3 separate regions of the Homo sapiens genome follow, and regions 1 and 3 are each linked to region 2. The links come from fine-mapping of genetic effects on gene expression. A gene starts in region 2. Each other region holds a variant in brackets. All regions are shown on one strand. Distances are from middle to middle.

Region 1 (10,440 bases), 52 kb before region 2:
TGCCCGAGGCTGCCTGCCCTCCCCACCACCCCCACGGGTCCCTGCTGCATCATGCATGGTGCTCAGCACAGAAGTGAAAAGGGAGGAGAAGAGGATGTGACAGTTTCCAAGGCGGTCAGGAGGTCTCTTCGCCCAGTGTCCTTGCCATGTGAGAGAACGGTTCCCAGAGATGCTACCAGTGGACCCTCTGCAGGACTGAGGAATCCCAGTGGCTCATTCTCCTCACTTGGGCCCCCTGCTGTTCTCATTTTGGAGGACTGTCTCCCCTCAATGTGGCAGCCCCTGCGGGGACCCCTCTTCTTGCTGCTGCCCAGCCCAGCACCTGGTGCTCTGTCCTGCACAGAGCGGTGCTCCACAAGGATGTCCTATTGACACGGAAGAGGAAGGCACTCTCGTACTTCCCCCCAGGGACCATCCCAGAAACATCTCTTCTTTGTCCTCAAAAGACTGTCACCAAAATGCAAATTGAAACCACAGTGAGATACTATCTCACACCAGTCAGAATGGCTATTACTAAAAAGCCAAAAAATATTAGATGCTGATGAGGCTGCAGAGAAAAGGCAACACGTATACTCTGTTGGTGGGAATGTAAATTAGTTCAGCCACTATGGAAAGCAATTTGGAGATCTCTCAAGAACTTAAAACAGAGCTGCCATTCTAGCCAGCAGTCCCATTACTGGGTATGTATCCAAAGGAAAATAAAGTGTTTCACAAAAAAAACACCTGCACCTGTATGTTCATCGCAGCACTATTCCCAATAGCAAAGGCATGGAATCAATCTAGGTGCCCATCAGTGGTGAACTGGGTAAAGAAAACATGGTGCATATACAGCAAGGAATACTACACAGCCATAAAAAAGGACAAAATCATGGCCTTTGCAGCAGCCTGGATGCAGCTGGAGGCCATTATCCTGAGCAAATTGACACAGGAACAGAAAACCAAACACGATGCATTCTCACTTATGAGTGAGAGCTAAACACTGGGTACTCATGACTGTAAACATGAGAAGAATACACACTGAGGACTCTCAAAGGAAGAACGGCTGAAAAACGCCCTGTTGGGTACTATGCTCATACCTGGGCAGCGGGATTCATCATACTCCAGATCTCAGCATCACATGCAATATGACCCATAACAAACCTGCACATGTGCCCCCAAATCTAAAATGTTGAAATTATTTTTAATATAATAATTCGTGGTCCATATATGGTTAAAAAAAAGAAAAAAGAGAGAGAGAAAATAAAACCTCTCACCCCTTTATCCAGGCTTTGATAAGTAGCTGGCATTTTAGGGCTGCACGGGAGTTACCCTGTTTAATTCTGAGAATGACCTTATGAGGTAGGGATCCACAGTGCCCCATTTTATAGATGGGAAAACTGTGGCATGGAGAACGGAAATGACTTGGCAAAGGTCTTACAGCCTGTGGGTGGCACAGTTGGGATTTAAACCTGGTGTCTCTGCAGTCTGTGCTTCTGACCCCTGCACCCTACTGACTTTCATAAATGGAGCAGAGCCATGGCCCTGTGCCTGTGGGAAGGACAGAGCCCATTCCACTCTAACAGGCAGACAAAAGAGGTCCTCAGGTGATGGACAGTTGAGGCTCCATTGTGGAACCCCCGATGCTGTGTGTCCCAGAGCAGGGCCCAGCCTTGCTGGCATCCATTCCTATACCTGGGTCTCTGGCTATCCGCTTCTGCTCTCTCTTGCAGGTGTCCACCCCCCAGGGTTCCTGACCCCTGCCCCTGGACAGCGACCCCTTCTCAGACTCCAGTTGGGCCGGACTCTCCAAACCTGCTTCCGCAATGGGTGGGTTGTGAGTGCTGGTAAGACCTGCTAGCCAACATTCAGCTGCTCTGTCCTCTCCATGCCTGGCCGGCCCGGCCCATGCCTGTTCTTTTCTCCCCTGTGCTGCCGCCGCCCGTGGCCGCCCCTCTCCTGAACTTACCGCCACTCAGGTAATGAGGAGCCGTGGGTGCAGCCAGCCTTGGAGATGCCGAAGAGACGGGACATCCTAGCGATCGTCCTCATCGTGCTGCCCTGGACTCTGCTCATCACTGTCTGGCACCAGAGCACCCTCGCACCCCTGCTCGCGGTACATAAGGGTGAGCACGCACGCATGCCCTGCCTGCCCAGCTGGGCCTTGGTAGTGACAGTGACCACAGCTGACACGCAGGGTTCTTGCTTGCACTCACTTAGCAGCTAGGAGGAACCACGGGATCATCTAGGCCCCTTCATGAGTCTTGCACCCCTTTGGGAATGGGAAGCTAATGGAAGCTACCCACACAGTTTTAAGATGCCTGGGATGGTAGGTTGGCAGACACCAAGACAGTTGCCTTGAAAGAAGAGCTTGTTACTCTCAGCACCCAAGAGGAGGGGGCACGCCCTGCCCCCTGGGGAAGTGCTGAGGTCGGAGGTGGGAAGTGAAGGGAGGGGGAGGTGGGAAGTGGAGGGAGTGGGAGTCTTTAGTGTGGTTTTGGTAGGAAGGAAAGTGGTTTTCATAGGAAGGGAAGGGCGAAGCACTGTCGGCAGCTGAGCTGGCCCAGAATTGCATAGTCTGAAGAAAGTCAGTGGGTTTAGGATATGGGTGTGGTTTCTAATTGTCTGGTATCGCCCTGGGGTGGTTTAGGGCAGCGGAAGATTGGCTTGGGTGGGAGAGCTCCATAAAGGTGGTAGTGGGTATGAGCTCTAGATCAGGTAGTTTGCATATGAAAAGTGTGTTTGCAGGCAAGGTGTGTACTGTCACTAGGAATTAGCTAGTCCCGGGAGGGGCAGTCCCTCCCCATATCTGCAAGTCCCCCAAGATGTCGACGCATCTTAAAATACAGAAAAACTTAAAAAACAAACATCATTAATACACACACATACACAGAAAGACACGCATGTACAACTTCACATGCCATTTCATGACATGCAAGGAAAGCGACCATTCTGAAGTGGATGGTGGGGGAGGAATAGGATTTCTGGCCTGCAGTGTGTTTTAAACCCTTTCACAGAGAGTATATTGTTTGCCTCTCTTCTTTTCCTGTGTAGGAAACCCTGATCTAGTGCTACCTGGTGGAAATAGGGCTGGAGAGAGGAAAAGTCCCGTGAAGAACTAGTGGAAGAACTAGGGGTAGAACTCCTTTCCCCTGGCTCTGGGTCCTGGGTCGCCTTTCCCTCTCACTCCCAAACCTGCCACGCACCCCACAGCTGGCTGCCCCAGCTCTTCAGCACTTTGTCTCGTGCTTTTCTGCCCCCTCCCCCACTTACATGCACAGGCTCACGTGGGGTCAGGCAGCTGTTCGTTTGCAGCGTGCATGATACCACCTGGCAGTGTGATAAACAAGAAGGCAGCACCAAGCCCATGCAGAGAGAGGTGGTGAGTGCCTGTAACCCCAAGATGCAGGCAGTGTCCAAAAATCACAGCCTGAAGTCGTGCTGCTCCTCACAGTCAAATACCAAGTCCTGCAAACCCATAGCTGTTCCTGAAGCTTCCATGAGGAAGGGCCAAGCTCAACATTGCGGCAGCCCACTGCCCGTGGCTGGCACTTGGCGCCTGTCTTCCTGACATCATCCTCTCCTCCCGACCCTAGGGCCTCTTCTCTGTGCTTGTCAGTTCAGAATCATTGTTATCTTGCAAATACATCACTCCAGAGGGGTTAAAACTACTATATATAAAGCGACATGATATCGTGTCGATTGCGTTCTTGGCAGAGCTCCAGCGCTGGAGACGTCAGGCTGTTTGCTAAGCACTGATGGTGCTGCCTGAGGCTGGGGACTTGGCATTCTGTCTCCCCAGAGCATGCCAAGAGCAAGCGAATGAAAGCTGCAGCTGAGTGAAGTTAGGGTCACCAGGAGGCCTTTAGGACCCAAAATTGCAGACGCCCTGAAGCCAATGGGAAGGGCGAAGCCCAGGAGCACACGCAGTAGCCGTGCCCTAATGTATGGGGACTGTCCAAGGGCACAGGTCCTCTGCGGCCTTGGGATGATTTGGGTGGCAGAGAGGTGGACAAAGTGGCTCCAAACTTCCTCTCAAGGCCTCAGTTTCCAAAACTTGACTGCCCATAGGATGAATTAAGTCCTCTGTCTAGGTCAGAACCCTAGACACCCATCCCGCTTTCTTCCACGTTGCTCTTCTCACAGTTTGACCCCAGACTCCTCTAAGCAGCCCCCTCTGAGCGACTGCGTGTGTGCTGGTTTCCTCCCCCGACCCTCAGCAATTGCTGTGTGCCTGGTGCCATTTGCCCATGAGAACTCCTGAAGAGCCACGAGCAGGCCTCCTGGGTCCGTTCAGATGAGCTCCACGCTAGCGTGCCACACACCCCACATGCTGCCGATGACAGTGGCCGGAGGGAGGCAGCAGAAGAGCTGATGCCCGGGGTCCTCCCCTTTGGTGTGACTTGCTGGTTCTGTCCCCACCGATTGCCTGAAGCCAGAAGGAAGCAGAGTTGGCCACTGCCCTTCCGCAAGAGAGGAAACTGTGCCTGGCGGTGCTCTCAGCCCTTGTGGACTCATTAATCCACATAATAACTCGATAAGTTCGATGCTATTATTAGCTCCATTTTACAGTTGCTGAAATTGAGGCGCCAGAAGCTAAGCAGCTTGCTCAAGGGCACAGGGTTCGTAACGGCAGAAGTGGGCAGGGTCTCAGCCCAGGCACCGGGATTTCTTACCTTTACCACCCGACGGTAAGCTAGGACAGGAGGGCCACACCGTCATTGGTGCATGAGCCCTTCCGATGGAAGGACAGAATTTGGAGAGAAGGGACGCATGGAAAACAAGAATCCCAATGGCCCTGATTTCTCCTCTTGCTAGGACTGCTAGATCTACATATACCTTGGCAACTATGGGCAAAACCCACGAGAATAAAATGCGGTGAAATAGGAAGTTCTGCACCGAGATTCAGAGAATGCCTTACGTAAGGCCAGGAGGGAAGAGGCCCCGCTTGACTGGAGGGCTTGAGAACTCCGGGAGCTGCCTCAGGCTCCTGCGGGCCCACAGTGGGCCCTGGTTGCTGCCGCAGTGCTGCGGCCCTGGGGCTTTGTGGCGTCCACACCACAGCGGGGCAGTGCCACGTGCTCTGCTAGCCCAGCCCTGCACAGGGCAGTGTGGCCAGCTCCCTCCAGATGAGTAGGGCTAGGGAGGGGAGGGTCGGGACGCCTTTTCATAGGAAAGTCAGCACATTCAGGAACTGAGGATGCAATCTTGGAATATGGGCAACTGCGCTCAAATAGCTAGAGGGCTGCAAAGGTGGGAAGGAAGAGGTTATGTCTGTGTCATCAGAGCTAGGACCCTCCCAGAGAGGATTCCAGGGCTGCAGATTTCAACCTTAGAGCTAACAGGTCAGGCAAGGCGGGGGTCTGAGCAGCCCCTGCAGCGGGGGAGGAGGAGGGTGCCCTGGCAGGGTGGGTGGCGTCCCGCTCTGAATCCAGGGCCGTAGCCGGCGCTCTCCTCCCACATCGCCGGTCTCCCGACTCCGCAGATGAGGGCAGTGACCCCCGACGCGAAACGCCGCCCGGCGCCGACCCCAGGGAGTACTGCACGTCTGACCGCGACATCGTGGAGGTGGTGCGCACCGAGTACGTGTACACGCGGCCCCCGCCATGGTCCGACACGCTGCCCACCATCCACGTGGTGACGCCCACCTACAGCCGCCCGGTGCAGAAGGCCGAGCTGACGCGCATGGCCAACACGCTGCTGCACGTGCCCAACCTCCACTGGCTGGTGGTGGAGGATGCGCCGCGCCGGACGCCGCTGACCGCGCGCCTGCTGCGCGACACCGGCCTCAACTACACGCACCTGCACGTGGAGACGCCCCGCAACTACAAGCTGCGCGGAGACGCCCGCGACCCACGCATCCCGCGGGGCACCATGCAGCGCAACCTGGCCCTGCGCTGGCTGCGCGAGACCTTCCCGCGCAACTCCAGCCAGCCTGGCGTGGTCTACTTCGCCGACGACGACAACACCTACAGCCTGGAGCTCTTCGAAGAGGTGAGGGAGGGCCCGACAGTGAGCAGCGGGACCTCCGGCTGCGGGGAGTGGAGGGGCTTCCCGAGAAGGGGGTGTGGGTGCGGAGGCGCGCGCAGGGGGAACCCGGGAAGCCGGGCTGGGAGCGGGGCAGGCAGCAGAGAGCCAGGGAAAGGGATGGAACTGCGGGCTAAAGCATCCCCCACAAGTTAGGGGGAAGACAGGTGGCTCTGGAGCCCCTAAACCATATTCCTGGCCCTAGAGGTATCTCCTGAATGGGTTTGTGAGTAGGTCATTCTGCGTGACTACCAGAAACCTCTTAGGTGGAACAGTTGGAGCTCGCCTGAGTATATGGGCTGTGTTAGTCTCGGGGACAAGGGGAGTCACTTCACACTCTAGAGCGGGGAGACTGAAAGGTTTTAGACAAGGGAGAAAACAGCAGCAGGGCCACGCTGAGAAGGGGAAGACCAGGCCGTCTGAGAGGTCAGGTGTCCCCGGCAGCCCAGGGCAGGTTCTTCTCAGGTGCCCAACCCATGGGATGGGTCCTGGGGGCAGGGCTGTACTGGACACCCCCTAGGTGGCCGCGGCTGGCCATGGGCATAGATAGAGGTGGCTGAAGGATGTCGCCTCCCTTGGGCACGCGCGGCCGTCCTCATCTGCAGTGCCGGCGCCCTGACTCTGGACCCCCCCCTTGTAGATGCGCAGCACCAGGAGGGTGTCCGTGTGGCCCGTCGCCTTCGTGGGTGGCCTGCGGTACGAGGCCCCACGGGTGAACGGGGCAGGGAAGGTGGTCGGCTGGAAGACGGTGTTTGACCCCCACCGGCCATTTGCAATAGACATGGCTGGATTTGCCGTCAACCTGCGGCTCATTCTGCAGCGAAGCCAGGCCTACTTCAAGCTGCGAGGTGTGAAGGGAGGCTACCAGGAAAGCAGCCTCCTTCGAGAACTTGTCACCCTCAACGACCTGGAGCCCAAGGCAGCCAACTGCACCAAGGTGAGACCCTCCGCAGAACTGACAGCTGTGATGCAATGTCTCAAGTACATCCAGACCCTCCCTACAGATCGGGAGAAGGAAACAGAGGCCTCAAAATAGCCTGGGCTTTCTGGAACCCCCTCCCAGGAAGGCAGTGTATCACCTGTAAGGCAGCGACACTGCGGACAGGCAGGGAAAGGGAGAGCAATGGCCACTGGGGAGTTATAACCTCCCACAGAACAGCCGTGCTCCAGCACCTCCCTGCTGAGCACTCATGCACACACACATGCCTACGCGTGCACACATGTGCGCACACACACATGCAGATGCACACACATGCACACATATATGCAGGTGAACATGCACAGACATGCACATATACACATATGCACATGAACATGCATACGTATGCACACACACACAC[T/ACT]TGGGAAGTCTTGGGGCTTCTCTTTTCTGTAGTTCTAGACTTCCCATTTCCAGCAGGTATTCCGAAGGCATCACATGTAAAAACAGCAAAAATGAGGGGGTAGTCGAGAGCCACAGAAAATAAATAAAAAACAATTGAGAAAATCTTGATGGAACAATTGAAAAACTCTCGAAGGAAAAGGAGGGGCAGGAGAAATGTTTACACAGTGTGGGAGGGAGCAGGGAGGCAGCAGAGTGAGGTCAGGGGCCTGTCCCACCATGTTTTGCATCTCTGGGCACACAGATCCTGGTGTGGCACACACGGACAGAGAAGCCAGTGCTGGTGAATGAGGGCAAGAAGGGCTTCACTGACCCCTCGGTGGAGATCTGAGCCTCAGGATGCAGGTATGGGCATGACGAGGGTGGGCCACACACTGGGCAGGGCGGCACCAGGTTGGGCCGAATCAACTGTCTCATTCTTTTCCTCTTGGGCTTTCACTGTGGAGGACAGGGCAGATGTGGGCAGGAGTGGAGGGCGTCGTCACCACAGTCCCCTTCCCACTGGGCCACCTGAAAGTATCCAGGCATTAACTTTCACCCACGCAGCTGGGTCCTTCTGCCACCAGACTCTTCAGAGGGTGTCACCTTCCAAACATCTTGCTGATTTTTCTGCTGGCAGTGACGCCTGCACCCCACAAGGCACTGCCATTCAGACTCTCGCTGGCCAGCGTCTGTCCCCCCAAGTCTGCCTCTTCCCCTGTGGATTCCTTCACCACGTGGCCATGGTGAGGACTCACGGACTCGCTGCTCCACAGCAATGAGCCCACGGCTGTCATAGTGAGAGGTAGCGCAGAGTGACAGCACGGACCCAGAGCCCACCTCAGCTCCCAGGACCCCTGCTCTTCACTGTTTGACCTGACTTGACTTTTCTGGGCCTCAGTTTCTTCATCTGTGAAGTAGGTTGCTGAGAGCACCTAGAACAGTTCATGGCACTTAAATCTCATCAGTGTGGCTATTTTTATTCAAGTCTTTAAAGCCCTCTCTGGAAGTAGGCCACAGGATCCACCTACACTTCAGAAGCAAAGAAATGATGTTGAGAGAAGCTAAATGAATGTTCCAAGGTGACACACTGGCACGAGTGAATTGTGCTGGGTGGTTGGCAAAGCCAGGCATTTTCAGGGGCTTTTCTGTGATCTTATCCTGTCTCTTAAAAGCAGCTGGTACTCCTGACTCCCTACTCTAGGTTATGCCAAACAGAGGTTGAGGCCTGAGACAGACATTTGTCCTCTTGCCCTGGAGCTAAGCAATAGCTTCTGTATTGTGTTTGCCCGCAGAGGACCACAGGGTGTCACTCAGTCACCTTGGCCAGCGCCACTTAGAATGCATCTGTACCGAGCCTCACTTCTGCCTCCTGCCCTCACTGCCCTCACTGGAAGCACCTTCCCCACCTGCCCCTCAGAAAGGCCCCCACAGGACCTGGGGGCCTGGGCTTTGCAGAGGTCCTGGTGGCCCTGCCTGGCCATTCCCTCCCCGGCCCCACCCTCAGCCGACACCTCACTCATTCCTCCTCTCCCCTCACAGGAGCCTCCTCCTCAGACCCTGTTCTTGGCCTTCCATCCTCTCCCCACGGCTGATGGTCCCTCCAAGGCCGACTCCTAAGGAATCACCATCACCCTCCTTTCTATTCTGGGGGCTTCTGAGAGAGCCCAGCCTGATGCCAGAACAAAGGACAGAGAATTTAAGCACAGAAATCCCAGACCTGTTGTTCTCTCCATCCAGCGTGACCAGGGCCCGAGAGACCTGATGGCCAGGGTGGGGTGTCCAGCACCAGCCAAGCTGGTGCTCCAGCGCACCTCCCCAGAGCTCCCCGCACTGACGGGGCTGCAGGAGCAGGTGCAGTGGGCGCCCACACTGGCCCTGCAGTGATGCAGGGCGGGAGGGAGATAAGAAGACCCCGCAGTCAAGTGGAGCATGGCCCTCCCTGGCTCCCTGTCCCTGGGCTCAGCACGACCACACAGGACACCCAGCCAGGGAATTCTGAAGACCAGAGAGCAGCCCACGGGCATCACGAGCGCTCTGCTCCTCTCCTGGGCCCCTGCTCTTCCCGAGAGCTGCCCCCAAATCAGACATACCTCTGTGGCTCTCCTCTGGTTCACGTTTACAGAGCATAAGGCTGTCTTGGATCCCAACAGGCACCCAGCCCTGCATGGGGGGAGCCTGGGCCTAATAGGCACCCCCTGTACCTCAGGCTGTGGCGGGAGCAGAGTCCCCCCCTCCGGCCCCTCTTCCTTTACCCCTTCTCCTCCAGCAGTGGCAAAGGGGTAGGCTCTAGAGCCAGCACAGGTCACTGCCTGACCTGGACTAAGAACCCCACGGCCCCACTGTCCACACACTGCCTCCCCACCGCCCACCTCGGCTGCTAGGCCCCTCGCCTGGACTGGACTGGGGAGGGAAAGCGCCTTTTCCTGCAGCTCTTCAGAGCCACAGACCTCAGGGTGGAGTGAGCCCATGGTGGGCAGTGGGCAAGGCGGTGGGTGGTGGGCAAGGTGGGACCTCCTGCAGCCTGGAAAGAGGAGGGAGGCCAAGGCCATTCCCTAACTCCCTCCTGCCCCTGGTCTGAGGAGGAGGGACTCTGGAGTAGCAGAGGGGCTGGGAAAGAGGGGGCAGGGGCTGCTGGGACACTGAGCAGGAGGGAGGCCTGAGCACACTGCTTTGGAAATTATTCTAAACACAAAAAAGGGAAAGAAAATGTTATTTCTCCCTAAGTCAGGAGCATGCAGAGCTAGCCCACCTCATGTCCAGCTGTCCACTTTCCATCCTGGAGAAAGAACAGTGTGCCTCAAACTCCTGCCCTCCCCAGGCCTCTGGGGCCCACTGGAAAGGGCTCTGACCCCCTGGCCCAGCCGGGCTCTCTAGTGGTGATCCGGCTCATTCTCCTGCAAGTTGGAAGCACAATTTTCCCCCCAAGTGGAGGAAAAGGAAAGGGCCCCAGCCTACTGAAGAGGTGTTTATTTTTTAACTAACAGCCTCCCACCCCATTAAGACTCACCAGGAGAGGTCTGAGGGCCATTCAGAACCCACTCCTGAGTGGGTGGGTGGGTGGGACTCAGTCCAGAGAC
Region 2 (10,440 bases):
TATGTGCTCCTTGGTCTGGGCCCAAGGTGTTGGACTCCTGTTTGCTGGGAGAGGCATTAAATACGCCCAAGGGCTTTGGCCTGCCATTCCCAAGGCAAGTATATGCATCTTGCAGAGATGTGAGGTCCCCAGCAAGAGGTCCACAGCACTCTTGCCATCCTAGCTCCTCTGCTTTTTCCTTTGAAAAGGCTCCCAGGTAAGGCAGGAACCCTGGCCTCACATCCAGGCTCTGACCCGGAAGCAATATTGGTGGTTCAGAGAGCAGTTATTTCCTAAAGACTGTAGGAAGTGAGTACATGAAGAAGAGTTTACTAGACCAAAACCTTGAGATCCAATAGTAAAGTAACAAAAACCCCTCACTCTAATCAACCATATAACAACAATAACAACAACAAAAAGTGTTCTAACATTCTGTTACTCTGTACTTTTGCAGTACTTTGGGACCATTGACAGCATCATAAACAGGAAAAGGACTGTGTCTCACCCAGAGAGAAAGCTCTGTTAGATAACACAAGGCCTCTACTCTTGATAACAAGCCCCTGATCTTCAAGATGCTTGTAGACTCTAAATGAAATGATATCACAAATACGGAAAAACATTATTATGTTAAATTTTTTTTTAATCCACCACATAGGACTTATCTATGAAGATATACAAGAGATGCACTGGCTCTTACAAGACTCAAGAATCGACTTGGCCCTATTGAGTTGGGCTCGGAATCTCCTTTACATTGATCCAACAGAAATAAAATGTACTATTTGGAAATGTCTATCAAGATTTAAAATGAATCTATCCTACGGTCAGCAATTCTACTTATAGAAATACATCCAACAGATATCTGCAGCAGCTTTGTTTACAGTAGCTAAAAGATTGCAAACAATCGATGTCCATCAGTAGAAGGCTGTTTAAATAAATTATGTGTCTAATGGACAAGTGGGATAATATGTGTAGCTATCTTCTTGTATATGCATAGAATATTTCTGAAAGAAGCCATTACCAGTAGTAACAGCTGATATGAATAGGGGATAGGGAAGGGTGCCTAGCCTAGGGGCCAGGAATGGGAGTTTCTTTTCACTTTATTCCCCTTCACACTCTGAATACTTACCATGTTCATTAATTGCCTACTCACAAAATAACTTCTTAAGGGAAAAAAATACAATCTGTGCTTGAAAGGAACAAGCCCACTGACTGTTTCGCTGAGTGTCAAAGAACAGAAGCTGTGAGTATCAACAAGGAGTCTCTAACAGGCAGACACGAGTCAAGAAATATCTACCTCGTTAGCAGGAGCCTCTAAAAACACCTGCTGCCTTTCTATCCCAGGAGACATCCACACATGAGAACTCTTTTTCAATACGGTCTTTAATATCCAGAGCAATAGATTTAAGCAAAAGCTAAAACTGAGTGGAGAGGAAGCAGCAAATATCCCAACATTGACACCAAAAAACCCTGCCCCTGCTGGTGATGGTGGAGAGGGAGGGAGGGAGGACGTGCCTAGACCCCAGAGTCCTTTTCAGGTCCAAATGTTCTCAAACCTTTCTCCGCAAGCTACAGCATCTCCTGAATTCTTCCCAGAAGAGCGTCTGACATGACCTCGTGGAACTCTGCACCACTTCATCAAGGACTACATGTTTTTATTTCACTTGCCACTTCCTTACCTTAAGGTGGGAAGAACCCTTTGGTCAACTTTCTGCTATTTCTGCAGCCCAGGCTCTTTGTCTCCAATCTTCTTGGTAGCCCAGTCCCTCCCTTGAATCACACCTATACCAATACTATGGCTGCTCCAAGACAACTCTGGTCTCCTTCTGCTGGTGGCTAGCATGGTCCTGTAAGAATCCCAGAGCCAACTCGATCTTCCTAGCACAGGGTGATTCAGACATCCCTCAACACCTGTATCCAACAGGTGATCACCTGCTGAAAGAGACACTTCCCCGATGCTGAAAACTTTACTACTACAAGATGAAAGGAACACTGTTCAAAGAGTTTGAACATTCCATGAAATATGACTCAGGCCTCAAGCAGAGAAGAGTCCTAGAATAGGCAAGGCCCATAAAATCAATTACCTCCCAGAAGCTCCAGAGGAGAGGCATGATTTGGCCACATACCCTTGGAAGACAGGACTGGCCATGATTCACATAAAAAAAAAAAAGTGACCTGCATTGCTAAGTTAGCCACCTTGTTCAGGAGAAAGAGTTTGATACATCTCCTCCTTTTCCTTTCTATAGGAAGAATTTGGGGTCTGGAATAAAGAAAACAGCAGGGCAGGGCAGTGTGTGAGACGGACCTCAGAGAAGAAATGAACTTACCTCTTAGGAGCATGATGCTGGCTGCCCACATGAAGGCTTTCCCCTCTCCCAACTTTCCCAGCTAAAATTTCAGGTATGAGAGATGCAGCGTTGCCTGTATTCTTGCTCGGTGATTCATTTATATTAAGGAAAAAATCATGAATGAGAACCATGCCTTTAGATAATATCAAGCAGGCATTCTTGTGTTCATGGAGTGCGAATAGGAAGAGAATGAAAGGCAACTGGCTCAAAGGCACGGTTCGCACTGATACGTGCATCGCAGACCTCAAAATAATACTCTGAGTGAAAGAAGCCAGACCAAAAAGGAAAACATGCTTTAAGATTACAATTCTATAAAACACTAGAAAATGCAAACCAATATATCGTGTCGGAAAGCAACAGATCAGTGGTTGCTTGGGGCTGGGGAGCAGGGAGGAGTAGGAGGGAGGGATGACAGAGAGGTACATGGAAACTTTGGGGGCTGGTGGCTGTTTTCACAATCTTAACTGTGGTGATAGATTCACAGCTGGATTTAGATATGTGTCAAAGCTTATCAAATTGTACATATTAATTAAACTCCAATAAAGGTAATTTTTAAGAAAGACCACTGTTTACGCTTAAAAAAAATAAAAATAAAAATTCTAAGACTGAAATCCTCCCCAAAAGTCAACCTGGTCATCCTAGTCTTTTGATATGATGTAACCCACCAGCTATGACTGACCGTGAACCAGCCCAAGGAAAAGTTGATGAAAAAAAAGAAAAGCTATAGCCAAACATCCCCCAGCCCATGCCAGCCACTGTCCAAATACCTGCCTTCTGCTACAGGAAAGGGGCTGCTCCTGACAGCTCGGCTCCACAAAGAGTGAACTTGGTGGCCAGTTTCCACGTGACCTATATTCCACTGGCCACCTCAACACTGCCCAGTAACAGCTGGGAGAGGCCCCACCTCCCACTCAGTTAATGACCCAGTCAGAGCTGGGGCAAGACAGGAAGAGGGAAAGACAAAGAGGATGTTCTCCTCCTGCCTCCAGAGATATTACAGCAACTCATACTCACTGGTGTCCAGCCCAAGTCAGACAGGAGGAACTGGCAGAATGTACCCATGAGGGTGAAAAAATCAAAAAGATGCCAAAAAGACACGTATTCCACAGGATCTGAAGACACGGCCCTGAACTTGGTTCAGAGCTCCTTGAGCTTCTGTTCTACCTGCTAGAAGGATGGAGAGGCAAGAAAAACATCCTTCCCAGGCAGGCCAAACTGTTTTCACAGAATTTGGTTGCAGCTCTTTATTCTCTGTTGCCATTCCACCTGCTCCAATGGCCCAAGACTGACTCCTAGTGCGGTCACCCCACCTAGGTGGGGACACAGTTACCTCACCTCAAAGAAGCTCAGGCGTCTTCCCAGCTAGGTCAGCTCCCTGCCACCTCACCTCTGTCCCACCAAACAATAACAAACCCTCAGCCTCCTTCGCATACCTTTTCCTGGGGACTTTTTGGGTGTACCACTCAGCCCATCTCAAGCCCACAGTGCTGCCCCAAATAGTGACCTGCCTGGGTCCCCTGCACGGACTCCTGTATCCCTGACCAACAACAGGCCTGCAGCCGCTAGCCTTTCTCTTGGCAGCTTGCACGCCTTGCTACCCTGCTGTATGCAGGAGGATCTGCTGCCGCTGCTCTGAGTAATTCTTCTGGGGTTTGCGTAAGCCTTGCACAGGGAGGAAAGCTGAGCATCCCACAGGAGCCAGGGCCAATCTTCAGAGAGGAATGGCTTAGAGATCTTAGGCAGGACAGAAAACATCTTGGGAACAACCGGAGAAGTTAAATGCCTGAAGTTTTCTGGGCCCCAGAATGAGAAGAAAATCCGTCCTTCTCCCAAACAATATCATGACGTCCCCACTATCTCAGAAACAAGAATCCAGTCTTGACAAGGTGTAAACATAGAGTTTGTCAGTGTGTTCTTCTGGCCACAAAGGACTTCCAGATATTTATCTCCATCAAAAACTTCCCTGTCTCCCAGGGGAAGTGCAGAGAAACTAAGAACTTAGTTTCTCTAAGTAAAAAAGAAGCAAATGACAAAGCCGAGCGGCGTAGGGCCTGCCACCACTTCCAACCGTTCAGTTCATTCGATACTGCCGGTCGGCTTCCCACTGGAGGTTTTGAATATGGAAAGTGCTGACCTGAAAGATAGGGTCAGGGCTGTAGAATCCTTAAAATAAGCACAGTTTAGAAAAATGCTGGGCTAGGGCACCCAGAAAACTTTTTCACAGGCTGTGGGTAAATCACAGTATCACTGAAGCCACTCCTTTGCCATAAACAACATTTGGAAAAGGGGGAGAGGAAAGGGTGAGCTGGTAACAGGTGAATGGTGGGAAAGTGGAGAGAGACGACCTATCAGTCCTACTGTGCAAATAAATCATGGCCCGGGATCTTGGAGGCCCACGGACACTGTTCTTACGACCCTGCCAGGCCAGCTGGCTAGACCATACCTGCCAGGCTGAAGCGCCGGCCTCTGCGGAATAAGGCGCCTCCCAGAGGCTTGGGAGGAAAAGGGGGGCCTGGGGGAAGGGCAGAGGGAGCTCTCCGCGGAGCAGTGGGGACGGGGCCGCGATGGGGTGCGTCTGAGAGGGCTCTGACGGCTGGAGGGCTGCGGGCGTCCACGGGGGGCAGAGCCCGGCGTCACAGGCGCGGCGGGGTGGGCGGCTCGGGGCACAGACGCCGGCTCCCGAGGGCACGCCGGGTGTCGCCCAGAGGCCTGGATCGCGCGGCAGGAGTAGAGTGCCTGCAGCCGCAGGGGAACTCGGGGGTATTGGGGAGCTCCCAGAAAGAAGCAGCTGGGGCTGCTCCCCCCGGGAACTCGGGATTCGCGGGTCGCGGGAGGAGAGAACCCGAGGTGCGGAGGGCTGGGGAATGTGGGGTCCGGCAGGTGCTGCGCGAAGCTCTCTCTCACCTGCGGAGCACCAGGAAGCCCAAGACGACCAGCAGCAGGAGTCCCAGCGTGCGGGCCGGCCTCCGCCGGAGGCTCCACGTGGTCATCGCGTGTTCTCTAAGCGCGGGGACCCGGGTTCCCACTCCAGTCCGCACTCAGCCGCGCGCGGGAGCCTCGCCGCGGGGGGCGGAGCCGCGCACTGGTCGCCTGGGCAACCGGCCCGCCGGCGCTCATTGGCTGGGGCTCGCGGCTCCGCGCCTGCAGCCCTAGGCCTCGCGCAAGCGGGGGCGGGGCTGGCCGGGGCCGGGGCGGGGCCTCTGTCGGGGGGGGGGCGGGGCGGGGCTGGTGGGCGGGGACGAGGTCTCGGTAGGAGAGGGGGCTGGCGGGGGCGGGGCTGGCGGGGCGGGGCCCCGGCCGGGGGCGGGGCGGGGACAAGGTCTCGGTAGGGGACGGGTCTGGCCGGGGCGGGTCCCCAGTGTCGTGGAGCGGTGCAGAGTCCGCCGTCTTTCTGCTCGCGAGGCGCAGGCGGGTGCGGGAATGCTGCGTACCTGTCAAACGCCGAGGTAAAGTCGCCCCTCGCAGCGCTACATCAGGAAGAACGTACAAAAGGCGTCCGCAAAGCAGGGGCAACCAACAGAATCTTTTAAAACAATTCAGATTCTGAAGCAAACAACTTTTTCAATAACAAATCATCCTGTGAAAAGCCAGGATTTTGAAGAATTGTATCTGGACACATTTCAGTGTGGTTCATGTCTGAGGAGGGGGGGTTCCAAATATTTTCTGTCTTTGGTTTCTGCGAGTCTTACTCTGGCCTTGACTCCAAGGGCTTCCAATTTTTTATTTTAAAAAGGTCCATATAAAACTCTCACATTTTAGGAAAGGAAGAATATCATTCTTATTCTGAAACAGAATGTATGTCCCAAAGAACATGATGTAGTATTTCGGTGCAACTTACACTGTAGCAATCACAAACCCAACTCCTCCCGGGAACAAAATTCAGATTTTACTGAAAGAAACTCGAGGAAGGGCAACGTTTTCCAGAGCATCCGGGTTTGTCGAATGTCTCCCTTGCCGCATGCTTTGAATTCATTTCCTAAACGGGGGCATAGTTTTGAACTTGTAAAGCCGACAGGAACCAAATGAAATTGCAGATCTTGGAACAAAGACACAGACTTGGGTATGAAGTGTCCTTTGTCTAGCGTTAAGCACATATTTAGTCAAGGAGCAAAAGTTAAATCAAAGAGAGGCAAAAACAAACGAACAAACAAGAGGAAAAAAACCCTGGCAGAACTGGGGAGGATAAGCTGGGCTTGGAGCAATCCGGGTCTGACTTAAGCACCGCAAACATTCCCAGAGGCGCGCAGAGGGAGGCCCACTCCCGTGGACGCGCTCCAAGCCCGCTCCTTTTCTCCATTGGGTAAGGCTATGATTGCTTGATGGCTATGAAGTCTGTGATGGAAACATGTTGGTTTAATTGGAATATACCAGCTAGCCCCGAAGCGTGTGGAGAAATTGTCAAAGGCTAGCCCCTTTGCCTGCAGGGGACCATCCGAAAGACATGCACCCCACATTCATCCTCTCACTTCTGGTCACGTTGAACAGTGGCAGAATCTATCAAATATAAGGGAATTCTCAAATGGTTTAAGCAATACAAGCATCTCCATTTTTCTTCAAACGTTAGCAAAAACTTAACATGGGTTGTGAAAACCGTGAACTCCTTGGCCCACCCTTGTATCCTTCGTTTTTATTTGTGCGAGAAAAATATACATAACTGAGTGTTTTCAAAAAAATTTCCCCTTAACCTTGTGGGATGTTCAGAACTAGGGACACACCCTGCTCACAGTCTAGGAACAATTTTACTTTATCTGGGCTTAATGATACCACAGAATGCTACAAAGTTAGCACTAACCCGAGATGCGTCTTGCTCATAGGCTGAGACTTTTTTTTTTTTTTTTGAGACAGAGTCTCACTCTGTTACCCAGGCTGGAGTGCAGTGGTGCAATCTCAGCTCACTGCAATGCCTCCCGGGATGCAAGCTATTCTCCTGCCTCAGTCTCCCGAATAGGTGGGACTGCAGGCACCCACCACCTTCCCCGGCTAATTTTTGTATTTTTAGTAGAGACGGGGTTTCACCATGTTGCCCAGGCAGATCTCAAACTCTTGACCTCAGGTGATCCACCTGCCTCGGCCTCCCAAAGGGCTGGGATTACAGGCGTGAGTCACCATTTCCAGCCTGAGACTTTTGTTTTTTAAAACATTAGGCCGGGTGCGGTGGCTCAAGCCTGAATCCCAGCACTTTGGGAGGCCGAGGGGGGCAGATCACGAGGTCAGGAGATCGAGACCATCCTGGCTAACACGGTGAAACCCCATCTCTACTAAAAATACAAAAATTAGCCGGGCGTAGTGGCGGGCGCCTGTAGTCCCAGCTACTCAAGAGGCTGAGGCAGGAGAATGGCGTGAACCCAGGAGGCAGAGCTTGCAGTGAGCCGAGATCGTGCCACTGCACTCCAGCTTGGGCGACAGAGCGAGACTCCGTCTCAAAAAAAAAAAAAAAAAAAAATTAGCAAGATACTCCTTCAGTGTCTCCTTTCCAAAATGTTTAGTGATCTTAACCCAAAGCAGACAGTGAAAATACTCAAATCCCTGGGAACAAAAGCTACAGTTACAATGAGCTGGCATAAGAGTGGGGTAAAAAAGTGGTCTGCCAAGGTGCTTGGCTTGGTAATGAATCCCTGGTACACAGGAATCATCCTCTTCCCAGGCCTTCTTTCTAGTGTCCAGGGTTTAGAAAATACAAGAAATGCTTTTTAAAAAAGTTAAATCTTGTTGGTGTGCCATTTCCATTGCTCTAAGTCAGAGCTCCAACAGACCCAGAGGGCACAGTTCCTTCCTTGAAAATTCCTGTATCACAGATAATCAGCGGGAAACCGAAACACATACAAAATGCACACACAGGAGAATAAAAACCACACTCGCTCAAAATCAGTACAGTGAAGTCACGTGGGAAAAGCGATCATGTCAAACTAGTCTCATTTGCTGTTTCACTTTTTATTTTTAATAGGTAACAGGTTTACAGATCAGTTATTCATTCACGTAACTCATTTTTGAGGGCACTCTGCTAATGCTTTAAACACAGGATATCTGAATTTTAGGAAAACATTGGCAAAATTTCTTTTAGTCATGAGAATAAGATGAAAAATGTGGCTTCTACGATAGTACAGTCACTTGGGCCCCTGGACCAAGATATAACCCTCTCCTCCCCACCTCCTCCTTATGGACAGACACCTCTGTCCAGCAACCCCCATCCACCCTCCCCTCAGGAGAAGCAAAGTCCAGTTATGATGTCAAGTTGCCAGGGGTCTTGAACAAAGAAATTCAGAGCACAGGAGAATTCCTGGGAATAAATGAGGGCCATTTCAACCCTAGCCAAAACAAAATAGAAAGTCCTGGAATGGAGATTTGGCCTAGGAAAAAGAAAAGAGAAGGCAGATTTAAGATAAAGGAAGTAGACAAAGCTTTTCAGCCCCAAAGATATGTGAGTGGGACTGGAAGGGGCCTGTGCACATCCGATAAGGATGCACAGAACTTGATCTTTGGCCTTACCAAGCCTAACTATCATTTTGTAGGCTCAGCCTTTGAAGGCCTAATAGCCAAAGATCTAATTCTGCAGCATTGTATTTATTAAAAAGTAAATGACAAATTTTAATGACCATAAACAACATACTGAACACTGTTTCACATGCTTGGGATGTATCAGTGGACAGAACAAAGATCTCTTCTCTTTGAAATTTCTGTTCTAGCTAGGGAAGAAAGACAATAAAACTTAACAGAATGAATAAGTAAACTGTAGAGTATATTCAAAGGTAGTAAACTCCATTGCAAAAATTTAAGAAGTAATAAGGGAGCCAGGCCCAGTGACTCACGCCTGTAATCCCAGCACTTTGAGAGGCTGAGACAGGCAGATCATTTGAGATCAGGTGTTCAAGACCAGTCTGGCCAACATGGTGAAACCCCGTCTCTACTAAAAATACAAAAATTAGCCAGAAATTGCTTGAACCCTGAAAGTGGAGGTTGCAGTGAGCCAAGATCATTCCACTGCACTCCAGCCCGGGCAACAGAGTGAGACTCCATCTCAAAAAAAAAAAAAAAAAAAAGTAATAAGGGAAGGAGGACTGGGAATGTGGTGGGGAGGGGTCTGCAGAGAGGCGGTCTCCCCGGAAAGACATTAGCTGAACAAAGATCGGAACACAGTGGGAGTTCTCCATGCAAGCGAACCAAGATAGAACCTGGAGGAAGCACTGTCCAAGCAGACAGAGCAGCTCGTACCAAGGCCCTCAGGAAGGAGCATGACCTGGTGTCCCTGGTGTCCAAGGAAAGGCTAGGAGGACAGCGTGGGAGGTGATGGCAAGAAGGCAGGAGATGAGGACAGAGAGATACAGGGGCCTGATCATGCAGGGCCTTTAAGAGCAGGGCTTTGACTCTGAATGAAATGGGAGCCACTGCATGGTTTGAACATGGCGGTGATGATAACTTAGAAGGATCACTGGTGCCATGCAGTAATCCATATGGGAGACGATGCTGGCTCAGGGGACAGCGGTGGAGGTAGTGAGAAGTGTTGAATTTTTGGGAGTATTCGGAAAGCAGACATGAGAGGGTTGTTGCAATTCGTGGATTGTTTGTAGGGGGAGAGAAATAAAGGGGGCTTAAGAATGTCTCCCACAGGCTGGGCCTGAGAAACAAGAAGTGCTGGTCGCTGTGACCTGAGATGGGGAAGGTCATGGGCAAGTTTCTGGGAGACATCAGTAGCTCAGCTTGGACCTGCTGCATTGAGTGGAGTGGAGTGGAGACACCACGCAGGCTGCTGAACATCAATCCTGATGGTCCAGAAAGAGGTTTGGGATGGAGATACGAATTTAGGAGTTGACAGAGAGCTGGTATTTAAAGGCAAGAACCTGCACCAATTAACAAAGTGCAGACCGAGAAAGGGGATGGGGACAAGCCCTGGCACACCTAACACTGAGAAAAGGCAAGGAACCATGCCACCAACAGGTGAGGTTAAAGCAACACTGAGGATCGACCCGTGGATTTAGTATGTGGTAAACGTTGGTGAACTGGACACAGGCAGCTTGGGTGGAGTTGGGGGTCATGGGATTTGGGAAGCCAACTGGAATGGGTTCGGGAAGGAAGGGTGAAGAGAAATCTAAGACCATTAATGTAGATGACTCTTTTGAGA
Region 3 (9,153 bases), 42 kb before region 2:
GAGTTCTAAGAACAGAGGCTGGGGTGAGGGTGGCACCCAGGCAGCTGCATCTGGTCTGTTTTAATTTAACTGTATTTAATTTGCTTTCAAAATTAAAAGTCAAATACAGTTTTTAACAGTCCTAATCCTCTTCAGCCCTGCCTTATTTTGTTCTCATTTATTAATTTAGCTACCCAACAAGTATGTATCAGGTGCCTGTTATGAACAGGCATCATTCTAGGAGCCGACACACAGCAGTGAGAAAACAAGGCTCTCATTTTCAAAGAACTGACCCACTGACGAGAGGAGACAGGCAATAACGAATGCATATTATTTCAGATGCAATCTGTTGTATGGAGGATGAGGGTGAGTCGGGGAGACAGAGGTAGCAGTGGAGAGGGTCAGTGCTCTGTAGGGTGACCACAGAGGCCTCCGTGATAAGTGACCCTTGAGCGAAGCAGCAACACCCTGACATGCAGCTCCCCGGGCCCAAGAAGAACGAACTCTCCACCAGGCGGAACAAGCGTTGCTCAGCCTGCTTACAGATCAGCAGGAAGGCCATCGGGCTCAACTGACGGGGCGGGGGCTGCTGGGGGCAACAGCAGTGAGGGATGTGGTGGGCGTGGGAGAAGGGAGTCCCCAGGCACCGGGTGAAACCAGAAGGCAATAGGGGGTCCAGTACGGAGGACTAACATAATCTATCCATCTCTAAGAAGAACTGCCCTGCTCCTCCACGGAGGATAAATGGAGAGGGCAAGGGCAGGTGGAGACGTGGCTCCTGGAATCATCCAGGCCAAGATGCAGTGGGCTGAGTGGGGGCATGGGGTTGGGGCAGAGAGAAGCAGTCAAATTTTGGCCAAGTTTAGGAGGCAGAGCCAGGAGGATCTGCTGCTGGATTGGATGTGGGAGATAAAGAGAGGGGTCCAAAATAGCCCGAGACACAGAACAGCACTGCCATTTCCAGATACAGGGCTGCGTGCAGGAGGGGTAATGTGGGGAAATGGAGCTCTGTGTCAGGTGCCTGTTAGACACATGCAGAAGAAAATGCGCCCCCACACACCTGGAGCTCAGGTGCAGCCCAGCATCGGCGGGCGCGGGTGTCCAACCTGTTTACAAACCACAGGTGCACGGGTGAGACCCTATGCAGTGAGTGTGGACAGAGGAAAGAAACAGCCCAAGGAGTGGGCCAGAGACCCCCAGCATTCAGAGGCTGGATATGAAGAGGGATTCTCCAAAGAGACCTAGATGAGGCCATACCGTGTGGAAGATAATGGAAACATCTTTAGTCAACGCTGGAGAATAAGCTCTGCCAAGAGGTACTTTGATAGAGAAGCTGAGCAATTAACTGGCAGAAAATAAGGGTGAGAATAAGAAGCTGGTGTAGGAAGACCTCACCTTAGGAAACCACAGTGTGTCCTGCTCAGGTCTGCGTGGAAGTGTGATCCAAGGGGCTTCTCCACCTTACAGGAGGATTTGCAGGAAGGTTCCCTTCCATTCCATCACTTTCTGACGGAACCAGCTCATACACAGCTCTGCAGAAGCACACACTCAGGTAAAGCGGGGCAGAAGACCCTGCAGGTGGCTCAGGCCACACCCAAGTAGCCCGAGTCTCATCCACATCTTAGCCCCATGCTTGTCGTTCCGAGGCAGTTCCAGAAGAACTGGTGAGTTTGGGCAAAACCAGGGACTCTGCCCCATGTTGTTCCCAAGCCACTGTCCACAAGCTTTCCTTTAATAAGCTCCATTTAATAAGCCCTTGACCCGGCTCAGCTGCTGGGCTGCACACCACGAATGTCCCCTGCACTCCCCCTGGGCAGCCACACACGGGCAGCAAGCCTGCTGGCCTCAGTGAGCTCCACGGCTCACCATCCCCCAGCCCACCTTCACGGGGCTCCCAGAGCTCTCGCTGTGCCGGGGATGTGTGTGCTACTTGACTTTCTGACTCTTACTGGAGATAATTTGGTTTTGGCAGTAGATGCCAGATGTAGTTTGTGAAGCAAAACTCAACCCCGCAGTTAACTCATATGGAGCGCCCTTGACTGCCTGGCAGATTCTTACCCCCGCCCACCAGCATGAGAATGAATTTGCATTTGAACTGTCCTCTCCAGGGCACTTCCAATCCAGAGACATTTGAAGGGAAGTCGGGGTCAGGAGGGGAATATGAGGCCAGGATCATGGCCCACCCACCCCAGGGACGGTCCCCATCTGGACCCCCAGGCGGCAAGTGGGGCCCAATGGGAACCTGACCAAGAAAACCAAGCTCTCAGACAGCCTTCCCTTCTGGCAAGAGTGGCACACATGACCAGAGACTATCACCAGAGGGGGTGTGATTCAAGGTTATAGCTTTACTGCAACTCAGGACAGTGAGCCCAAGCCAGGTGTTGGGCTGGGCCCCAGAACAAGGCTCAAATGCGGACTTGGACACACTTCGAAGGAGGGCTGCTCTGCCCCTGCTGTTCGGGCGTGGGGGGTGGGGGGCGGGGGCCACTGAGCTGGGCCTTCTGTCCTCCTCCCTGGATGTGCAGACATGGGCCATGGCTTCTGCCAGGACTCACATGTGAGCTGGGCCTTCTGTCCTCCTCCCTGGATGTGCAGACATGGGCCATGGCTTCTGCCAGGACTCACATGTGAGCTGGGCCTTCTGTCCTCCTCCCTGGATGTGCAGACATGGGCCATGGCTTCTGCCAGGACTCACATGTGAGCTGGGCCTTCTGTCCTCCTCCCTGGATGTGCAGACATGGGCCATGGCTTCTGCCAGGACTCACATGTGAGCTGGGCCTTCTGTCCTCCTCCCTGGATGTGCAGACATGGGCCATGGCTTCTGCCAGGACTCACATGTGAGCTGGGCCTTCTGTCCTCCTCCCTGGATGTGCAGACATGGGCCATGGCTTCTGCCAGGACTCACATGTCCTCCTCACTGAACACCAGAGACACCTGCTAACTTGGGAAGACGCAGGGTGAGGATTTCTGTTTCTCCAGCCCAGCCTGTCACCCTGTGGGAAGCAGCGAGTGGGAAGGGAAAGGGGAAGTCACATGTTTCTCACGCCGAGTTCCTTCCAGAATCCCAAAGAAGGCTCAGAAGGTTGTGAAGGAAGAACAAAGTCAGCTCAGGTGAGACACCCCTTCCCCACCCTCTACACTGGTGACACACCCAGGATTTCGGGGATAAAATGGGGCCATGAGGGATGTGGCCAAGCCTCCCAGGAACCAGCAAAGAGCACGCCTGAGTCCAGCAGATGCTCGCAGGGCTGTGACGTCC[A/G]GTGCAAGGGCACGTTTCAGCACTTTTTCTGAGGGCCAAAGGCTGGGCGATCTGATTAGCTGCTCCCACCCTAGAGACAGCCCGACAGCCTCGGCACAAGAGCAGGGCTGTAGGAAAGCCATCATCAACAAAGCCAGGCCCAGAGCCATCCCACCTTTCCCTGCAGGCTTAGGGTTTTGAGCTGAGACAGGGGCAGACTGTAGCCCCCAGTCCCTGAGGTTGCTACTTAAGGAGATGCTTTTGCAGTGAGGGGTGGGGCAGCAGCCACCAGGCTTCAGGTCAAGAGGAGGCGGCAGTCTCCCACTGGCACCAGCAGGAGGGGGTGCCACCGCTCACTTAATGTACTGGTTCCTGCCCAGGTGGGGGGTTTCCGTGAACTGTAATGCAGGGCCCGCCATCGTCTCCTCAAAAACGATGACCTGTGGAGAGAGGGCCCGGCTGGGAGGGCAGCTGACGTCTGTCCTGGAGCCAGGGGAGGTGCTGAGAGGTGGCAGGGTCAGAAGGAAAGGGTTTGGGAACCAGGCTGGAAGGGACAGGGACCAACAACTCGTCTGCAGCGAGGAGGAGGGAGGAAGAACCCGCTGACACGCCCCTCCACCCTGACCGAAGGCTCCCTGGGACGGCAGGTGGGCAGGGCGTCATGGGGAACAGGAAGGGGCTGGAAGCTCCCACCTGGTTGATTCCGCTGCTCAACCAGGGACCTGGGAGGTAAAGCGTCTTCTGGGGTCCAATGTTCCAGTAACGTCCAAGGTTCTGGCCATTGATGAATACAACCCCCTTCTCCCAGCCCTTGAAACAGAGGGGAAGGGTGTTCATCTACCACGAGAGCCACAGCAAAAGTGGAGGGAGACATGCATGCGTGCTTCTCTCAGGTCCAGGAGACCAAAGCGAGCTGTGTCTGGACAGCCATGAGGGTGGGCAGGTGGGATGCTCTATTTCCTGTCCCCCTAGTGCATGAGGTGTTTCTTCTGCTGGGAACCCACTCCTCTGGCCCAGGGAGGCCCCAGCGGCCCTCTCAGACCCTCTGGGCACAGAAGCCACCAACGACTCTCGCCAAGCTCGTGGCTTTGGCTCAGAGCCCTCCAAGGCGGGAGGCAGGTGGGAGAAACTGGCAGGGAAAAGGGCGTTACCAACCTCCAGCTTCAGAAAGGTGTCACAAGGGGTGGAGCTGATGGACAAGCTACCCAAGAAGAAAGCAGGTAATGTGGGTGTTTCTGGGAGGGAACTCCATTTGTCCAGGCCGAACCTAAGGACAGAACACAGAGAAGGAGAGGGAGGAGGCCCTTCTCAATCCACCAGCACAATAAAGCAAAATAAAAGGCCCTGACACCGTTTCCCCATCCAAGGCCCCCCGCCTCTTAACCAGGACACAGAATGGCAGCACGGTAGGATGCTGGGAATTCCTAGTCTGCAAATGCGGCTTCTAGTGCGGGTGCCACCCCTCACCTCGGCCAGCCGATCTGGCCCCTGGAGGCGTTCACACCTGGGTGCGGGCCAGGCCACGGTGCACCAGGGACCCCTGGGCCCCACCACACAGCACTATACCTGTGAGTGCAAGGGCTGGTGCTGGGCAGGGACCCACCTCTGAAAGAAGCTCTTCTTCATATCCAGGCTATAGATTCTGAAGTTTTTCAGGGGTGAATCATTCAGATAGAGATTTCCAATTAAGCCTGTGGGAGGGAGGCAGGACACGTGGGTAGCCCAAAGGCAGGGGCCGAGTCAGCTGGGCCGGGGCCACGAGGGGAAGCCCTGGGAAGCTGGGGTGAGGGGTGCTGAAGTGTACGCTCCCTGAGAAGCTGGGGTGAGGGGTACTGAAGTGTACGCTCCCTGGGAAGCCGTTCGCTTGCAAGCAAAGCTCCCTAGCAATTCTGTGGGGGACGGGAAGGAGGAAGACCCTAAGATTTGCCATGGGAAGGATATAGAGCTGAGGTGTTACAGGGCGAGAACAACCTCTGGCCTCTCTCTGAAGGAAGTTCCAGATGACCGAGAGGGTTCTGGCCTAGCTGCAGGGCCAGTTTCAGTGGGGCCCAAGCTACACAGACCTAATAACTCAGCCAGAATCATCTCTGCCACCTAGGATTAAAGCTGTGCATTAGGAGTGTTTGGACTGTGAGCAGATGGCACCCTCCCTCGGGCATCCAACAGGGAAGAGATGTGTCCTCTTGAGGAGCCACTCATCAGTGTCCCGGGGCCGGGCCAGCCCTGCCAGTCTCAGATTACAGAGCTGCTGAGTGGCTAGCTTGGGAATTTGGAGGCCGAGGACTGTGGAGAGGCTTTGCAGGGCCTACAGACTCCGAAATGGCAGGTGCGGGTCTATGTGGGCACGCGCATTTCTCAAGGGAGGTCTGTGACTTATAAACATTGAACTGTGATCCAGAGGACAGGACTCCACAGTGTGGGCCCAGGGGACCCTCAACAAGGGCTCAGGGAAGCAAAGTTAGGAACAATGGTCAGGCTGGTGCTCCTTCCAACTCCCAGGAGAACAACAGAAGTGAGGACAGGCCCAGAGAGGGAGCTGTCTAGGGTAAAGGAGTGTGGGCCTGGGTGGTGCTAGATGCCGCTCTGAGGCCCATCTAGAAGGGCCCTGATCCCCAGGATCCAGGCCCCAGTGTCTGGGCCACGTGGCTTTCCTGGCAGGCCACCAGACGGCTCTCGGAGGAAATGTGGACCAATAAGAGCTCTTCAAGTTTCCTCCGTCACAAACGCAGACACCGTGAGAGAGCTGGGAGGTCACCGGTGCTGCTCACCACAGTCGCATTCATTTTGTTCTGAGTTCTTTTTTTATAACTTACCTGAAACCACCCACATTTAGCTAGATTTTTTTTAAAAAGGAAGGGCTAAATTTGGGCACGGTGGCGGGCGCCTGTAGTCCCAGCTACTCGGGAGGCTGAGGCAGGAGAATGGCATGAACCCGGGAGGTGGAGCATGCAGTGAGCCGAGATTGCACCACTGCAGTCTGGCCTGGGTGAAAGAGCGAGACTCCGTCTCAAAAAAAAAAAGGAAGGGCTAAATTAAAGCATAAAAGATTTAGTAGGCCAGGAAACATAAAGCAAATTGGCGGCCTATTCCCAGAGGGGTACGCTACCAACAGGTGTTTTGTTTGCTGTATGTCCCGCATCCTCCTCCCCCAACATCTGAGATAAGCTTTCCCAAGATGGATCAAGAAGAGAACTTCAGTGTGGAGGCCCAAGAAGGCAGGGGTCTTGTGCCTTTCCTTGGATTCCTGGAAATCACATTCATTGCTCCTCACTGCCGCCCCCCCAAGCAGACATCCTTGCAGAAACCGACTGCAGCCCAGGGGAGACAAGAGGCCAGCTCAGTGTTCACAGTGTTTATCACGAGCACGCAGACGATGCACGCGTGCAGTGCTAACAGGACAGGGGCCACAGCCCAGCGGAGTTTCTCTGGCCCACTCAGAACTGGCCTCATGTATGGGACAACCCAGCCTCCACCTCCCTGCAAGAGGCCTCCATGGCCTGGTGGCCTGCTAGCATAGAGAAGCAATAGCCACCTGTGTGTCCAGCATGGCCACTCTTCTTTTGACACATTCTGGGACCCACCTTTGCGCTGGTCATCAATATTCTCCCCATAGTTGACTCGCCCACGATTCTCCACCAAGATCCTCAGCACGGTGTAACCCTGCCGGGAACACGGGGCTAACGATGACTGTCAGAAGGCCACAGCTGCCCCTCAGAATTTGCTTGTGGACCCCAGTTCTTCCCTACGCTCTGGGGATGGGAGTGTACATCCCAGCTGGGCAGAAAGCCACACTCGCCCTCTCCACCTACAGCTTGTGGGTAAGGAGCCACGGGTCTCCCAGGTTTTCCTCAGTGACTGCCCCCAGACTTCCTCGAAGCAGCGGGGGCTAGCCATCACCCAGCTCCCAAAAACAACGAACCTGGATCAGGGGGACAGCAATCTTCGTTGTCTTGTAGTCCAAGAATCCTATGGATACTGTGTTCACAAACACCTGCCAAAGGGAACAGGCAGGAACATCCATGACCAACAGGAGGAGGGTAAGCGGGACCTCCTCCAGGCCAAGAAGGGCAGCACGCGTGCCTGTAGGCAGACGAGGGGCCAGTGGGCAGAGCAGACATGAATGCCCCCTGAAGGCTCACAGAGCTGACTCAGAAGGGCCATTGTCACACACTGGTAAGAGCTGATTCTGAGGGGAGGGCATGAGACGCCTATTGCAGAGCTGCTCACCAGAAGGTCACAGGAATTTAGAAGAGAAGCTCCTACCTGCCCCCGATCATGCACGTGGCCACTGAGGATGCCAGACGAGGTGATGCTGGTCTCATAGAGAATGTACCCGAAGGACTGTCCATTTCCCCCATTGACTGGCAGGTTCTCCATGTTGATGGGCTTTTCAGACTTGATTGGCTGCGTACAGAAGAGATGGAGGGGTGGGCAGGCTCAGGAGGAGTGGGGTCACAGACAGACTCTGCCTGGGGGCTGGCACATGGGGTGGAAGCGGAGGTTTGGTGGGTGTTTTCTACTTTGACTTCTCATTGCACTAAACATACAACTCTCCAGGGTGACGGGGAAGAGGAGTGGGGCAAAGGGGTGTGCACCAGCAGAGTGCAGTCCGCAGGCAGGGGACACACATCACAGCCTCAGTCCGCCGGAGGAGGCACCCCCTTCTTGGGGAGGGGACGGCCTGTTCCTCTGCCCCTCACTCTCCTCTCTGAGGCTGGAGGAAGGAAAGGCCCACGGGGCCAGCCGCTGTTCCTCAGGGACCTCTGTTTCTCCCACTTCACACTCCAGCATGAGTCTGTCCTCTTCCCTCTGAGCTCCAAGGCCGGAGAGCAGACCCCAGAGCCACCAGGCACTGGCCTGCCTCCCCCCACACTCCCTGTCTGGAGGGGCTCCAGGCCCTGCTGCCCCGACGACTCTCACCTCCCGCCGACGACTGCCCCCAGCACTCACCTCCCTGCCAACGACTGCCCCCGGCACTCACTCACCTCCCGATGACTGCCCACAGCACTCACCTCCCCCAGGTACTTGAGGGCGTCCCACAGAGACAGGTACAAGACTGGCGTTAAGGGCTCATACGGCATCTTGGGAAGAAGGTCAGGTGGGGGAGGGAGAGGGATGCCTGCAACACAGAAAACAGGGTCACCCCCAACGGACCCAAATGTCACTGCCTGCTCGTCCTCCCCACCCGGCTCCCATCCACAGACCCGATGTGCTCCTGCGTCCCAGCACCAAGAGGAACAACAGGCTAGCTCTCAGCACCTGCTGAGGCCAGGGAGGAAGGCCAGGCCTGGGGGAAAGCCAGGGCGTTCTCCCGTCCTCCACAGGAGATAAGGAGCGTTAACACCTGTAACAGGTGAAGCCGGCAAGATGGAAACAGCCTCACACACCTCCCTGTCCTTGTCTAGGATATTCTTGCACGCAGATCAACTGGGGTCGAGGTGGGACAGTAAGGAAGTAACTCTTTAGGGGTCTGAGAGCAGAAGCGAGGGCCTGAGTTGGAACTTGAGTCTGCTGTCTGCTGGGTACCTGAGATGGAGCCGAAGAAGTCTCGAAGCTTCATGTACTTGGCCGTGTAATCGCCGGCTTCTGTCAGCACAGCATCATAGTCTGCAAGACACCGGGCCCTGTCATGGTCATTCCTGTCCCCAGCACAGCACATGTAGCACGAAGAACAGGGAGAAGCTTGGAAGGGCCACAGGTCTTCATCTCAGCCATTGGGGAGGCAAGACACTTTTGAGCCATTCAGTCAAAATACTGTAAACATGAAAGACCAGGCAACTACAACAAGCGTCCATAAGGCCAGGTGCAGCGGCTCACACCTGCAATCCCAGCACTTTGGGAGGCCAAGGCAGGAGGATCGCTTGTGCAGTGGCTCACACCTGTAATCCCAGCACTTTGGGAGGCCAAGGCAAGAGGATCGCTTGTGCAGCAGCTCG

What was found.
Region 1: its variant is fine-mapped to the expression of GLB1L2 in cerebellum (GTEx, PIP above 0.99).
Region 3: its variant is fine-mapped to the expression of GLB1L2 in whole blood (INTERVAL, PIP above 0.99). The same link has a PIP of 0.9 or more in nasal epithelium and sun-exposed skin.

Annotation. Positions count from the first base shown.
Region 1 is chr11:134,379,210-134,389,649 of GRCh38, reverse strand. B3GAT1 (beta-1,3-glucuronyltransferase 1) reads left to right here. Exons shown (of 6, transcript NM_054025.3): 2 at 1,710-2,102; 3 at 5,462-5,970; 4 at 6,644-6,940; 5 at 7,626-7,726; 6 at 8,903-10,440. The coding sequence starts at 1,991. The coding sequence ends at 7,712. Among named protein-coding and RNA genes, the nearest start is that of B3GAT1, 28 kb to the left of the region's middle. The variant T/ACT (reference allele first, on the strand shown) is at 7,344.
Region 2 is chr11:134,326,936-134,337,375 of GRCh38, reverse strand. It overlaps GLB1L2 (galactosidase beta 1 like 2), which reads right to left and starts at 5,388. Exons shown (of 19, transcript NM_001370461.1): 1 at 5,229-5,388. The coding sequence starts at 5,314. RefSeq lists a silencer at 5,239-5,538.
Region 3 is chr11:134,369,476-134,378,628 of GRCh38, reverse strand. It overlaps GLB1L2 (galactosidase beta 1 like 2), which reads right to left. Exons shown (of 19, transcript NM_001370461.1): 11 at 8,744-8,824; 12 at 8,230-8,336; 13 at 7,481-7,621; 14 at 7,137-7,208; 15 at 6,799-6,877; 16 at 4,821-4,908; 17 at 4,373-4,484; 18 at 3,911-4,027; 19 at 2,305-3,657. The coding sequence ends at 3,571. LOC124902798 (a long non-coding RNA gene) reads right to left here and starts at 1,833. Exons shown (of 2, transcript XR_007062961.1): 1 at 1,375-1,833; 2 at 288-565. B3GAT1 (beta-1,3-glucuronyltransferase 1) reads left to right here. Exons shown (of 6, transcript NM_054025.3): 6 at 1-121. RefSeq lists an enhancer at 1,269-2,168. The variant A/G (reference allele first, on the strand shown) is at 3,239.